Homo sapiens: one gene and its partner. The protein of the gene in region 1 purifies or fractionates together with the protein of each later gene. This does not show direct contact. Each region holds a gene or a part of one and is shown in the gene's direction. Other genes may lie near its edges.

Evidence for each region.
Region 2: the proteins of NTRK1 (region 1) and USP48 purify together in Homo sapiens (affinity purification with mass spectrometry; 2 studies listed by BioGRID). This does not show direct contact.

Annotation. Positions count from the first base shown.
Region 1 is NC_000001.11:156,870,865-156,877,864, forward strand, and holds part of NTRK1 (high affinity nerve growth factor receptor isoform 2 precursor), read left to right. Parts: intron 1-758; coding exon 759-891; intron 892-2,768; coding exon 2,769-3,095; intron 3,096-3,518; coding exon 3,519-3,536; intron 3,537-3,706; coding exon 3,707-3,762; intron 3,763-4,041; coding exon 4,042-4,144; intron 4,145-4,655; coding exon 4,656-4,802; intron 4,803-5,215; coding exon 5,216-5,346; intron 5,347-5,535; coding exon 5,536-5,708; intron 5,709-7,000. UniProt on the Homo sapiens protein: Receptor tyrosine kinase involved in the development and the maturation of the central and peripheral nervous systems through regulation of proliferation, differentiation and survival of sympathetic and nervous neurons.
Region 2 is NC_000001.11:21,702,994-21,710,357, reverse strand, and holds part of USP48 (ubiquitin carboxyl-terminal hydrolase 48), read left to right. Parts: intron 1-3,489; coding exon 3,490-3,614; intron 3,615-3,768; coding exon 3,769-3,891; intron 3,892-4,170; coding exon 4,171-4,232; intron 4,233-4,520; coding exon 4,521-4,631; intron 4,632-5,965; coding exon 5,966-6,096; intron 6,097-6,739; coding exon 6,740-6,846; intron 6,847-7,364.

The DNA of each region.
Region 1 (7,000 bases):
TCCACGGTTTCCTAGGAAGAGAAACTTGATCTGATTCAATCCTGACGATGATTCAGAATCAAGTCACTTTGCCTGTCTAACCTCACCCATGGTCCTCATCTGCTGCAGGAGGCGATGCCGCTGCTGTTGTTTCTAACTGCTGCTGTGCTATTTGCACCATCTCTTTGTTTCTGATCTTCCTTGGGCTGAGACTCAGTTTGTTAGAACTGTGTGTAAAACAGGAATGAATAGGCAGTGAGGTCCTAGTGGGGTCTCCAACGAGCTGTGTACAAATTTGGTACTTGGGATGCGTGACATCTGTTTAGCTGCTCAGATGGCTGGTTTTAGTTTCAGTTTGGGATATTTTGTGCCTATTTTGAGGCTACTGGTTAGATTTTAGATTTTTCAGATAATTAAATACGTGATCCAGGCTGGGCGCAGTGGCTCACGCCTGTAATCCCAATACTTTGGGAGGCCGAGGTGAGAGGATTGCTTGAGGCCCTGTTCAAGACCAGCCTGGGCAGGACAGTAAGACCCCGTCGCTACAAAAATAAAACATAAAATAAAAAAAAAATGTGATCCAGGAGATAGTCAACGAACAAACCTAAAGGAGGAAGGCCATTATCTGCTACATTCTCTCCCACCCCTCTCTCCCTTCTCTTCCCTCCCAGCCCTCCTCTCCTTTCCATCTGGAGCCAGAGGGGCTCTCCAAAGACTTCAGCCCCAGCCCCAAGCTGGCTAAAGCTCCTTCTTATTCCCCCCTCTCTTTCCTGATCTAGAAATCTGGGGGTCTGCCATCCCTGGGGCTGACCCTGGCCAATGTCACCAGTGACCTCAACAGGAAGAACGTGACGTGCTGGGCAGAGAACGATGTGGGCCGGGCAGAGGTCTCTGTTCAGGTCAACGTCTCCTGTGAGTCTCAGTGGCAGCTCCGGCACCCACCCCCTACTCATCTCTTCTTCCCTCAAAAGAGGATGTAGGGTGGGGGGCTGGAAGAAAGGGTGGGATGTGTGTCTCCACAGCTGCTCCCTCCCAGCTGTTTCCAGATTCCCATGAAAACCTGATCCTTTGGGGGAAGTCCTGGGGTCTTGTCAAGGCCAGAGGGATGGAGATGGATTTCTTTCTGGCCCCCTGCCCGAGCCTTGCTACCTGAGGCCCTCAACGCCAGATGCCCGGCTGTTCCCACTGCTCCGAAGTATTTTTTCATGCCCGTCCCTCATCGGGTCCTTCTCCCCGCATCCTAGTTTCAAAAGAGGAAATTCTCCTCCTGAGTTCCTCTTTACGCTCGCTGCCTAATTTCTCTAGATCAGCCAACAAATTATCTTAAATATTCTACTTTACATCAGTTTTCTTCTTTTATTGTGAAATATACATAGAAATGTGCAAAAAATATATATATTTTAAACAATAATTACTCTTACCAGCATCACGGAAGATCCCCCACCACCCAACACCTCTCCCTGTTCGCAATCCCATCCCACTCTCCCATCTCATGTTGACTTTTGTCAGGATAACCATTTCCTTGCTTTTAAAAATAATTTTTCTCAAATATGCTTTCCTATCGGTATCATTTAGTTTTGCCTGTTCTTGTACATTATATAAATGGAATCATACTGCGTGTATTATTTTGTATCTGGTTTCTTTCATTCAACATTATATTTATAAGATTCATTCATGTTAATGGGAGTTGCTATATGTAGCTCATGCAATTCATTGCTAAATAGTATTCCTATGTATGAATGCTATATTATATATATATATACATATATTTATGCATACATACACTTTTTTTCTATCATTGAGGGGCTTTTACTTTTACCAGATTGGGTCTATTTCTTTTTTTTTTTTTTGAGATGGAGTCTCGCTCTGTCACCCAGGCTGGAGTGCAGTGGCGCGCTCTCGGCTCACTTCAAGCTCCGCCTCCCAGGTTCACGTCATTCTCCTGCTTCAGCCTCCTGAGTATCTGGGACTACAGGCGCCCTCCACCACGCCCAGCTAATTTTTTGTATTTTTTTAGTGGAGACGGGGTTTCACCGTGTTAGCCAGGATGGTCTCGATCTCCTGACCTCGTGATCCGCCCGCCTCGGCCTCCCAAAGTATTGGAATTACAGGCGTGAGCCACCGCGCCTGGCCCAGATTGGGTCTATTTCAAACGCATATCTTTTTTCAAAAAGAGTGTGTGTGTGTGTGTGTGTGTGTGTGTGTGTGTGTGTGTGTGTTTGAAGAGATGGGGTCTCAGCCTGTTGCCCAGGCTGGAATGCTTTGGGATCATAACTCACTGCAGCCTTGAACTCCTGGCCTCAAGCGATCCTCCCACCTCAGCCCCCTGAGTAGCTGGGATTACAGGAGCAAGTCACTGTGCCTGGCTTTTCCCCAAAAATTTAACTGTATATATTTTTGGCTGGTTTGATTGTTAGGGCCCCTGACCCATCTTCTTCAGCTTGGTTACACTGACTTCTTCTAGATTCCTTATCCCAAAGACTCCATGTTTAATTGTCATAAGCTGATACCCCACTCCTGTGGGGCTGTGACTTATTTATGGCCCACCACTTATGTTCTTTAAGCCTCTAAATTTTATATGCCTGCTGCCTGATTTATTTAAAATGTATTGTCAACTTTCTTCAAAACATCTCTCCTTGGTGAATTTCCCAGGGCCTGCTGACCTGTTTCTCCCAGGCCTGCCCTTTGATTTCGGGTTCTACTCGCTTTGCCCGTGGACTTGTCGGGTGTGTGCCAGGCTCCCTCCAGCTGCGCCCTGACCTCCTGCTGTTGCTCTTTCTGGCCCACAGTCCCGGCCAGTGTGCAGCTGCACACGGCGGTGGAGATGCACCACTGGTGCATCCCCTTCTCTGTGGATGGGCAGCCGGCACCGTCTCTGCGCTGGCTCTTCAATGGCTCCGTGCTCAATGAGACCAGCTTCATCTTCACTGAGTTCCTGGAGCCGGCAGCCAATGAGACCGTGCGGCACGGGTGTCTGCGCCTCAACCAGCCCACCCACGTCAACAACGGCAACTACACGCTGCTGGCTGCCAACCCCTTCGGCCAGGCCTCCGCCTCCATCATGGCTGCCTTCATGGACAACCCTTTCGAGTTCAACCCCGAGGACCCCATCCCTGGTGCGAGGGCCATCCTGAACCCTGCCCCCACTCCTGGGCTCCTCCTGGGTTACAGCCAACTTCCTGCTATAGCCCTGACCCCAGAAATTGGAGTGCCTGGTTCGGGACAGAAAGGAGTCTGGAGTCCTGGTGTCCCGCTGTTCTGGCCTCCTTACCCTCTCCCCAAGCCAGGACTCCTGAACTCCTGAGCTATTCCGTCCTTGTCGGCTGGCTGAGGAGACAGCCATGCAGCAGGGCATCCTGGCCCAGCTGGAAAAGGGTCACATGCATCTTCTTCCTTGAGGCCCAGCAGCCCACCTCCATCCCCCCTCGTCCCATGAAGGAATGAGTCCCAGAGTAGGCAGGGGACTCACTGCTTTCCTCCTCCCTCTGACTGCTTTCTCTCCTCCCTCTGACTGCTTTCTCTCCTCCCTCCTGCTGCAGTCTCCTTCTCGCCGGTGGGTGAGTAGCCCAAGGTGGAGGGCAGGTTCTGCCTGGTCTCTGGAGCTGAGGCTGGGGCAGAGGGTACAGCTGAACTGATCCCTGAGAGACCAGCTGGGGCCAGGGTTGGGGGGTTACTGGAGGCTACAGTGTGTGTCAAGGCTCACCCCTCCTGCCCTGTGTCCCTACAGACACTAACAGCACATCTGGAGACCCGGTGGAGAAGAAGGACGAAACACCTTTTGGGGTGAGATAGGAAGTAGAAGCTTGTGCAGACTTTGGGACCGGGAGGCTGGGTAGAGGCTCATCTGCATGTCATTTCTGGTCAGAGCAGGGAGATCACTACCATCTGGCCTGAGCTCTGACGGCCACCCGCACAGCCACTGCAGGGGTCCCCAGGGGAGGATGAGGCAGGTCTGGAGACCTGGCTCCGGGCTCCCATGCAGGATGAAAAAATGGCTTACTACAGGAGGCTCTGAGAGTACAGGAGGAGCCCCTGGATCTAACTACCCCTGTCCCCCACCAGGTCTCGGTGGCTGTGGGCCTGGCCGTCTTTGCCTGCCTCTTCCTTTCTACGCTGCTCCTTGTGCTCAACAAATGTGGACGGAGAAACAAGTTTGGGATCAACCGTGAGTCGGGGCTGCAGAGGGCTGTCTGTCTGTCTGTTCTCCTGGCTTTGTTTCCTACTGGCTCTTCCTGACTCTGTCTCTGGGGGGCTGTGCACATGGGAGTTCCAGGGCGTGTGAGTGTGTTTGGGGTATAAATGAAGGCCTGGCTGTGAGGCTTGTGAGTGTGAGTGTGTGTGGGAGCGTGTGTCGGGCTGGTGCTGGGGTAGTTTCAGAGGCGGCAGCTGCTAATTGGTGGCTGGATTGTAGTCAAGCATTAAGTGGGTCTGGGAGGTCTGGGCTCTGTGGGGGTGGAGGGGGAGTTCTTTGGTGCCCATGGGGCCAGGGGTGGGACAGGAGCCAGCACAGGGAGAGGCGGTGGTGCCCCCTTCCCCCTGCCTGCTGTCTCGCTCCCTAGCTTCTCAGTCTCTCCCCTGCAAGTTACAAGGTGGGGGTGACCAGGCATCCTGCAGGCAAGGGTGGGCAGGGCCAAGGTGTGGGCAAACCCCTCCATGCGGCTGTGTCTCCTCTCTAGGCCCGGCTGTGCTGGCTCCAGAGGATGGGCTGGCCATGTCCCTGCATTTCATGACATTGGGTGGCAGCTCCCTGTCCCCCACCGAGGGCAAAGGCTCTGGGCTCCAAGGCCACATCATCGAGAACCCACAATACTTCAGTGATGCCTGTGAGGGGCTATGCTGGGTCAAGGGCAGGGACGAGTGTGTGTGTGTGTGTGTGTGTGTGTGTGTGTGTGTAGAAGCCCCTAGGCCTGAACGATCCCTCCCTTTCTCCCACCCCTCCCCAGCCCTATTCCAGCCATAGGCCCTGTCATATTCTTCTCAGGCTGAGTCCAGCCTGGCTCTTAGCTGCATCCCCTGCCCAGAGTCACAGCTAGCCCAAACCATGTCCTCTCGGGGCAGGTGCAGCCCCACACTATGACATGGGGCTTGCTGAAGGGGTGCAGGTTGAATTTTAGCCCCCATGCAGTCCCTCGTCTGGGCAGCCTTGTGCAGCACACAGCCCTGCCAAGACAGTCCCCGCTACAACCCCAGCCCTCCCAAGACTGGGGCTACCGTCTGACCCTGCAAGCCCCCTCAGGTGTTCACCACATCAAGCGCCGGGACATCGTGCTCAAGTGGGAGCTGGGGGAGGGCGCCTTTGGGAAGGTCTTCCTTGCTGAGTGCCACAACCTCCTGCCTGAGCAGGACAAGATGCTGGTGGCTGTCAAGGTGAGACCCTGCCCCGGGGGGTACTGCTGGCCTGGGTCCCACCCCCAGGAGCTCCATCACATCAGGACAGAGTGGGGGGAGATGCAGAGGGCTGACATGGCTGGATACCGGGGTGGGCGGGCTGCCCTGGGTGAACAGCAGTGAGGGCTCGGCCCCCAACTCAGTCCTGTCCCTGCCGCTTCCATCCAGGCACTGAAGGAGGCGTCCGAGAGTGCTCGGCAGGACTTCCAGCGTGAGGCTGAGCTGCTCACCATGCTGCAGCACCAGCACATCGTGCGCTTCTTCGGCGTCTGCACCGAGGGCCGCCCCCTGCTCATGGTCTTTGAGTATATGCGGCACGGGGACCTCAACCGCTTCCTCCGGTACCAGCACCTGGCCTCAGCGCTGGCCCCGGCCCCTGGCTCTGGGCCCCGTCTTCCCTTCCCTATAGACATCCCTGCTTGTCTTTCAAACCAAGGGGAGACACCAAGAAAGATCAGGAAGGCACATTCCCGTCCCCAGGGAGCTCTGAGATGGTAGAGGAGGCAGATGTGTGAACATAGGGGTGACTCTTGCAAAGGACAAGTGTCAGTAGTCAGGGAGGTTGCGATGGCAAAGGCCGTGAGCTAAAACTTTGGGGTGGGTGGGCTTTGCAGAGGGTGTATGTGCATTTGTGTGTGGCACACAAAGGCCAGGCCTGTAAGGGTAGCAGTTTAGATAACGACAGTAACAACGACAGTAATGAACATTTATCAGGCACCTTCTATGTTCCAGGTGCTATGTTATATACTTTATAATTTATTATTTTTTATTTTTTAACATGTATTTATTACTGTTATTGTTTTAGAGTTGGGGTCTTGCTCTGTTGCCTAGGCTGGAGTGCAACGGTGTTGCAATAATAGCTCACTGCAGCCTCAAATTCCTGGGCTCAAGCAATTCTCCCGCCTTAGCCTCCCCAGTAGCTGGGACTACAGGTGCACACCATTGCACCTGGCTCTACAATTTGTTCTTATTATGGTTCTATGTGCTGGTACATATATATCTTGTATAGTAATATAAATATGTATTTATTTTTTATGGCCTCCAAGCATATATTGCAATTTACACTTGAAGCAAGTTACAAAAAATTCATTTCTTTGGCTTCGGACAGAACAACTCTGATACATTTATCTATTTGTGCTGATAATTTTAATAACTTCGAGAAATGTGCCTGTTTCACAGATAAGGCTTAGAGAGGTTCAGTGACTTGCCCAAGGGCACACAGGTAGTGAATGGCCCAGGGGTGATGTGGCCCCAGGCAGAGCCCCTACTCTCAGCCCCTGATGTGATGGTCACATGTTCCCTCGGTCTAGTCCTTCTCTGATGAGATCACCCCCGGGAGGATGGGGCAGTGTTTGCAAGGCAGGGAGAAGAGCAGGGTTTGGAATCAGCTGCCACTTATGAGCTGAGCCTTCTTTGCCAAGTAGCTTTCCTCTCTGACCTCACTTTCCTCACCAGTAAGAGGGACAGTGTGGGGGCTGTGGTTCTGGATGAGCAAGCGCTGTATGGTTGTCCAGTTGATGGTCATGATCTGGTCCCCAAACATCCCTTTGGGAGTGATGGGTCATTCATGCAGTCAGGCTGCAGGACTCAGCTAGGAGAGACCCCTGAGTCTTGGGCTTATCCTGTGGACCAG
Region 2 (7,364 bases), about 140 Mb from region 1:
AACTAGATTGAGGGTGAGGGGTTGAGGGTCATTTATCCAGTATCTAAATTCATTGTTAACTAGATTTCTCTTTTTACCAAAGAATCTTTGAGTTTTAGATATTCTAGTTATGTTTACTGAATTGAATCTCTCTTGACTGCTTTGATCTTGTTTTGGGAGGTATTGCTCATAGAATGGATTTAGTTGATTGGCTTTCTCTTAAAATTTAAGAAATAACATGTTTCATTGCAGGATACAAGTTTAATTTCTAACAATTTATGTGTCCCAGTGAAAAGAGCAACCCAAATTTATTTAACTATTTTGAGGTCATAGACAATATTCAAGTATATTTACTTCATTATCATTCATTACATTAATTTAATTAATTGTATTAATATTCATAGTTAATATTAATGATATATTAACAACTACTATGGTAGTAATTATTAGAATAATAGGAAATTATATTTAGAAACTCAGCTAACAAGTAGAGTGAAGGACTATATATTTTTATTACCAACTAGACTACAGTAAAATGACTATTTAATATTATTCTGATCTCAGAAATGAATTTGGGTTGTTCTTTCCTTGTCATATGAAAAACACTCATCCCACTTAAAAGCCAGTCACTACCTAAAAGTACCCCCACATCAGAATGAAGCCGTGCACCCACAGTGTCTGTGGTCTCCTCTGCTCATTTAATAGTAAAGTTTGTGTGTGCATTCCCATTATTGTTTCCTCATAACCACATGGGGTTATACCACACACAAAGAAGCTCTCTTTTTTTTTTTTTAAAGCATAAAAAGGAAACCATTTAAATATTGTAGTTGCCGTGGAGTTCTTTCCAAATCAGGTCATGGAAATCTACCTTAATCTTTTTTATGGTTACGTTGTATTTCACATAAGGACTTACTAAGTTAAGGTTTGATAATCCAATTAACCTTTTTCTTTCATTTTTAAAAATAAATTCCCTAATTGTGTCTGAGGATGGGCACGTTAGAATAAGTTTTCATAGACTCACGGGAAATTTAAATTAACAGCCCACCCAGAAGGAAATACATGTTTACATTCTGACCCCATTTCTCTGGTAACAAGTCTGTTAAAGCAAAATAATCTTTTGGGGATTATTCAAAGATCCAGAAGAGGTGAGGGGTAGAAGTTAAGTTGCATTCTGAGGTATTATAAATTATAGGGACCAGGCATAGTGGCTCATGCTTATAATCCCAGCATTTCTGGAGGCTGAGGTAGGACGGTTGCTTAAAACCAGAAGTTCGAGAGACTCCCTCTCTACAAAATAAAATATTAGGCGGGCATGGTGGCTCATGCCTGTTAGCCAGACTACTCAGGAGGCTAAGGCAGGAGGATCGCTTGAGCCCAGGAGGTCGAGGCTGCAGTGAGCTATGATCGTGCCACTGTACTCCAGCCCAGGGGACAGAATGAGACTCTGTTTTCTTTTCTTTTCTTTTCTTTTCTTTCTTTTTTTTTTTTTTTTTTGAGACGGAGTCTTGCTCTGTCACCCAGGCTGGATTACAATGGTGCGATCTTGGCTCACTGCAACCTCTGCCTCCCGGGTTCAAGCGATTCTCCTGCCTCAGCCTCCCATGTAGCTGCAATTACAGGTGCACACCACCACTCCCGGCCAATTTGTTTTGTATTTTTAGTAGAGACAGGGTTTCACCATTTTGGTCAAGCTGGTCTTGAACTCCTGACCTTGTGATCCACTCACCTCAGCCTCCTAAAGTGCTGGGATTACAGGCGTGAGCCACTGCCCCCGGCCTGTTTTCTATTAAATAAATAAATAAATTTTAAAATATATTATGGGGTTCGAATGAGCTATAGACCTGGGTTTGTTTGTTTGTTTGTTTGTTTGTTTTTGTTTTTTGAGACAGAGTCTTGCTCCTCGCCCAGGCTGGAGTGGAATGGCACAATCTTGGCTCACTGCAACCTCTGCCTCTTGCATTCAAACGATTCTTCTGCCTCAGCCTCCTGAGTAGCTGAGATTACAGGTGCCTGCCACACACCTGGCTAATTTTTGTATTTTGAGTAGAGACGGGGTTTCGCCATGTTGGCCAGGCTGGTTTCAAACTCCTGACCTCGTGATCTGCTCCCCTCAGCCTCCCAAAGTGCTGGGCTTACAAGTGTGAACCACCAAGCCCAGCCTCAGACCTAGTTTTGTTTTGTTTGTTTTGTTTTGTGTTGTTTTGTTTTGTTTTTTTGAGATGGCGTCTCTCTCTGTTGCCCAGGCCAGAGTGCAATGGTGGTTATCTTGGCTCACTGCCACCTCTGCCTCCTAGGCTCAAGGAGTCCTCTTGCCTCAGCCTCTGGAGTAGCTGGGACTACAGGCAAGCACCACCATACCTGGCTGATGTTGGTATTTTTAGTAGACGCAGGGTTTCATCATGTTGGCCAGGCTGGTCTCAAACTCCTGACAAGTGATCCACCTGCTTCAGCCTCCGAAAGTGCTGGGGATTACAGGAGCAAGCCTCTGTGCCTGGCCTATAGACCTGGTTTCGTATCCCAGCTTTATTACTCACTAGCTGTACTCTGCCTGGTTATATTCATCTTTCTAAATTCATTTATTATGGAAAGTGTAGTATGTATTTAGAAAGCTCATGGCTTTATTACTCTTAATAAATCTGTAGGTACCTTGCCAATGGGTGCAGAAACAAACATATGACTTTAGAAATTTAAAGATAGTTTTCTGGGTAATGACCGATATGGGTAGATAAGTGAAGTTCACTAACTTACTGCTTGGGAACAGCTGAAACAACAGTAAGTATAACCACAAGTAGAGCCAGAGGAGAAAGGTCCTGGCAGGGTGGCGGTGACTAGTATTATTTTTTTATATCTTCTGGGATTTTTGAAGATTGAAGGGGATCTTCAAAATAAATTGCAAATAGCAAAGAAGTTGGTGCTTGACTGGAGATGGTTTTCAGATTGAGCAGTAGATTGCTTTATCTTCTGTTTGAATTGATAACTTTGAATTGATAACTTAAGGCAGTGGTCTTGTGATGGCTGGACACAGCTTACAAAATATTATTTTAATGCAGTGTGATTTCAAGATTAGTCAAATGGGAGGCAATAAAGTCTGCAGGAAATGATAACCTTTGAGTGTGGGAGTAGATGTAATTTTGTTAAGCAGCGCTTGCCATGGCACAGAGGTCCCAGGACTCCTGGAATCCCATTTTTGACTACTTCCTTCCTTGCAAGGAGAAAGAAAATGCACGGTTTTAGCTTTGTACGTTTGTTTTTATCTCATGATTTTTTTTTCAATCACAGACCTAGATTAAGGACGTAAAATTGAGGTTAATGGCTACCTCCTTTAGAATTAAAATGAAATCGGAAATTCAGAAGTTTTTGAAAACAAGAAAAGAGAGCTAGAAATACCAAACTTTAGCAAAGCAAGAAAAGCGTACCTGTGGATTTTTCTTAAGTTTAAGAAATAGGAAATAGATAATGACTTTTTTTCAGCTGTTTTTTTTTTTTCCAAATATATTTTTTTAAACTCAGGTGAGTTATGCATATCTGAAAATGAAAGAAGGCTTGTTTCTAAAGAGGCTTGGAGCAAACTGCAGCAGTACTTTCCAAAGGCTCCTGAGTTTCCAAGTTACAAAGAGTGCTGTTCACAGTGCAAGGTACTGAACGCTACTGACATCTGGGGAAATGGCATGCCACCTCCCTGGGTTGACTTCCCAGGGGAATTAACACTGTACTTCTGACGGGGGTGTAGGGAGGAGGCAGGTCATGTGCTGTCAGCAGGAGACAGTTGATTGCTTCATTCTCTTTCAGATTTTAGAAAGAGAAGGGGAAGAAAATGAAGCCTTACATAAGATGATTGCAAACGAGCAAAAGACTTCTCTCCCAAATTTGTTCCAGGATAAAAACAGACCGTGTCTCAGTAACTGGCCAGAGGTATAATGATTCCCACAAAAGAAAGAATGCATCTTTTCTTTTTAAAGCCCTTGCCAAATTCCCAGTGAGCTATTTCAGAACAACCCAGAACTTCTCATATTCTCATTTGTTTAGTTATCTAACCAGGGGATTTACTCCAGCCTGCTATTTTTTGGTAGAGGACTGTGTTTTCATTTTATTTATAAAACTTGAATAAGGACAACCAAAGTATATTATAAGGAATTTGTGTTAAGCAGGCGGTGAATTGACGGATACTGTTTTGTGATTTTTGTGTTCTAGGATACGGATGTCCTCTACATCGTGTCTCAGTTCTTTGTAGAAGAGTGGCGGAAATTTGTTAGGTAGAAACAAAATATGTTTTATTTCCTTTATTGTTACTGATTTGGTTGACTCTGGTATTTTTTAAGATATCGTGGATTCTGTTTGTTGTACCCTTCCTTCATGGTTACTTTCACCAGCATACACTGAAAGCTTTCTTTTCTATTAATTAAATGAATAAGCCTAAGAAACACATTGAATTACTAATATTTTCTTAAATATATCTCTGATTTTGAAATAATTATTTTAAAATCTTCTCTTTCGTCATGCAGTAATTAGGTATATTTCTCCTCCTTGTCTCATTTGAGTAGAAAGCCTACAAGATGCAGCCCTGTGTCATCAGTTGGGAACAGTGCTCTTTTGTGTCCCCACGGGGGCCTCATGTTTACATTTGCTTCCATGACCAAAGAAGATTCTAAACTGTGAGTTCCTTCTCTTCATGTGATTTTTTTTTCTTCTTTTCTCTTTTTGATGATTAATAAAATATGTTTAGGAAATTTCTCATCTGACATAGTCTGTTTTAAGAATTTAGTCCTTTGCTGAATTGTGGGGTTTTTTTTTCCCCTTTTAAAAGAGAAGAAGACTGCTTCTCCAGGAAAGACAAGAGGCTGCCCGAGGCTATTTGTCTTTTTGCTCTTTCCTTGTCCCTCTTGAAGACAACACAGCCACCCTTTCTCTTCCCCCGCTGCTGGTGACCAGTGCTGAGACCTCTTTTCCAGAATCACAGAATCAACATGGTCTTGGTTATAGGTTTTGTTCTGCCATGGCCAGGCTTCAGACAATTAAAGGAGGAGGCTAGCAGGGTGGCAGAGCAAAGCCACTGCACTGGTCATCTGGAATTCTAGGGTCTTAGAACCCAAATTTTATTCCATGCTTCAAGTACTTCCAGAGGTGTTCATCTGTGAATTTCTCCCGATTTTACCAAAAATCGTGATATACGAGAAGGTAGAATGCTTCCAACATTGTCAGAAAATCAGGAAAAGGAAATTGGAACACATAAATAAAAATGCCCTTGGGGTTAAGCTAGAGTTTTATTATTCATATTTCAGTACTTTAACATCATTTAAGGGAGTTCAAAGTTTATATATTCTCTACATTTTCTCCCTCCTCTTTCTCTCCCTCCCTCTCTGCATCCCGCCTTCCCTGTTGCTCTCTCACTCTCGCTGTGCATCTCTCTTCTCTTTCCTCCCTCCCTTTCTTCCTGTCGTTGTTATTGCAAATGTCAGACTTCCAGGAAAATACACCAGTAAGCAAATGTGTGTTACCATTCAGTTTAAAAGTTAAATGGTTCAAATATGATTAAAGGCCCCACAGTGCTTATCCTTCTGTTGCTACTTCTCTTTCTCCCACCCTTCCTCTCACACTAACCACTGTACTGAATTTAGAGTTTATCTGTCTCAGAAAGTATTCTGTAAAAAAAAAAAATGCACGCACATAATGTCTTGCATATTTAAAACTTTTTATATAAATGGCACCATACTGTATTTATACTTCTGCAACTAACTTATTTTACTCAATTATGTTTTTGAGATCTAACCATGTTGATTCATGTAATTTCAGTCCATTTAGTTTCGCTGCTGTGGTAACATTCCTTTGTATGAAAAACTATTCTTTGTTGATGATACGTATCTTTTCTCTCTAATTCCTTTGGATTAAATGTTAGTGTTAATGGTTTTGGTTTAGCAGACTAATGGATTATGTTAATTCTCTTAATTTCCATGTGTCTTAAGGCATGTTGTGTTTTTTTTTTGCACAGTATAGCTCTCATATGGCCCAGTGAGTGGCAAATGATACAAAAGCTCTTTGTTGTGGATCATGTAATTAAAATCACGAGAATTGAAGTGGGAGATGTAAACCCTTCAGAAACACAGTATATTTCTGAGCCCAGTAAGTTTTCATATTGCTTTCGGTTTCTATAGTTAAGAGCTGACATTTTAAGAAGAAAGGGTGTGTCAGTGTTGTCTGCTTAAAGTTAAAGATCATGCGGCGGTCCCAACTCCCTAGGTGGAAACTCTCATTATAATCATCCCATTATTTGTACGTTTATTTATGGACAGTAAATGGATTTCCTTATCATTTGCATGTAATAGAATATAGTGGTTAATAGAAAATATTATTAAGAGTTTGGGCCAGCACACTAGCTCATACCTATAATCCTAATACTTTGAGAGACTAGGGTGGAAGGATTGCTTAAGGCCAGGAGTTTCAGACCAGCCTGAGCAACATAACAAGACCTTCTCTCTACAAAATAATAAAAATGTAGCACATATCTGTAGTCTTGAGCTACTCGCTGAGAGGCTGAGTCAGGAGCATGGCTTGAGCCCAGAAGCTTGAGGCTACAGTGAGCTATGTTCATACCACTGTACCCCAGCCTGGGTGACACAGCAAAACCTTGTCTCAAAAAAAGAAAATGTTACTAAGAGTTTAATGAATATTCACTAGTAACTTTGACATATGTTTTTAGATCTTTGATTCTTTAACAATGATTCCTCAGCCACTTCTGTTTTCCCTTTTTTTTTTTCCCCCAAAGAACTCTGTCCAGAATGCAGAGAAGGCTTATTGTGTCAGCAGCAGAGGGACCTGCGTGAATACACTCAAGCCACCATCTATGTCCATAAAGTTGTGGATAATAAAAAGGTACTGGTCCCTCTTGTGGCAATGACTAGTAATGATCAAGCGTGCTCTTTGGCTTGATTTGCTGTTGTATTTGCACTGAGGGTCTGCCTAGGACTGCATTTTTGTTCCTTCAGAGCTGTTTGGCATCAGAATTGAAATTGGACAATAATTGAAAATGAACAGTTATGTGATTATATGAGAATTTAGTTTGTTATTAATTGATGCATAGATATTTACTGAATGTCAGCTGTGTTCCAGGAATGGTCCAGGTGCTGGGGATACAGTGATAAAGAAGGCAGGTATAATACCTTCTCTCAAAATTATAGGCACCTAGTGAGGAAGATCAGGAATAAAGTATAAATTCATATGATTTCACACAGAAATGATTGTTTTGAAGGAACTTTAGCAGGGTCAAGTGGAGGTTAGTGTGAGACAGGGAGTAGACAGGAGAGGCGTCTTGGAGAAGTTGTTTTTACCCAAGCCCTCACTGTCAGGGATGCAGCCTGGGAAGTGTTTTCCAGACAAAGGAAACAAAGGTC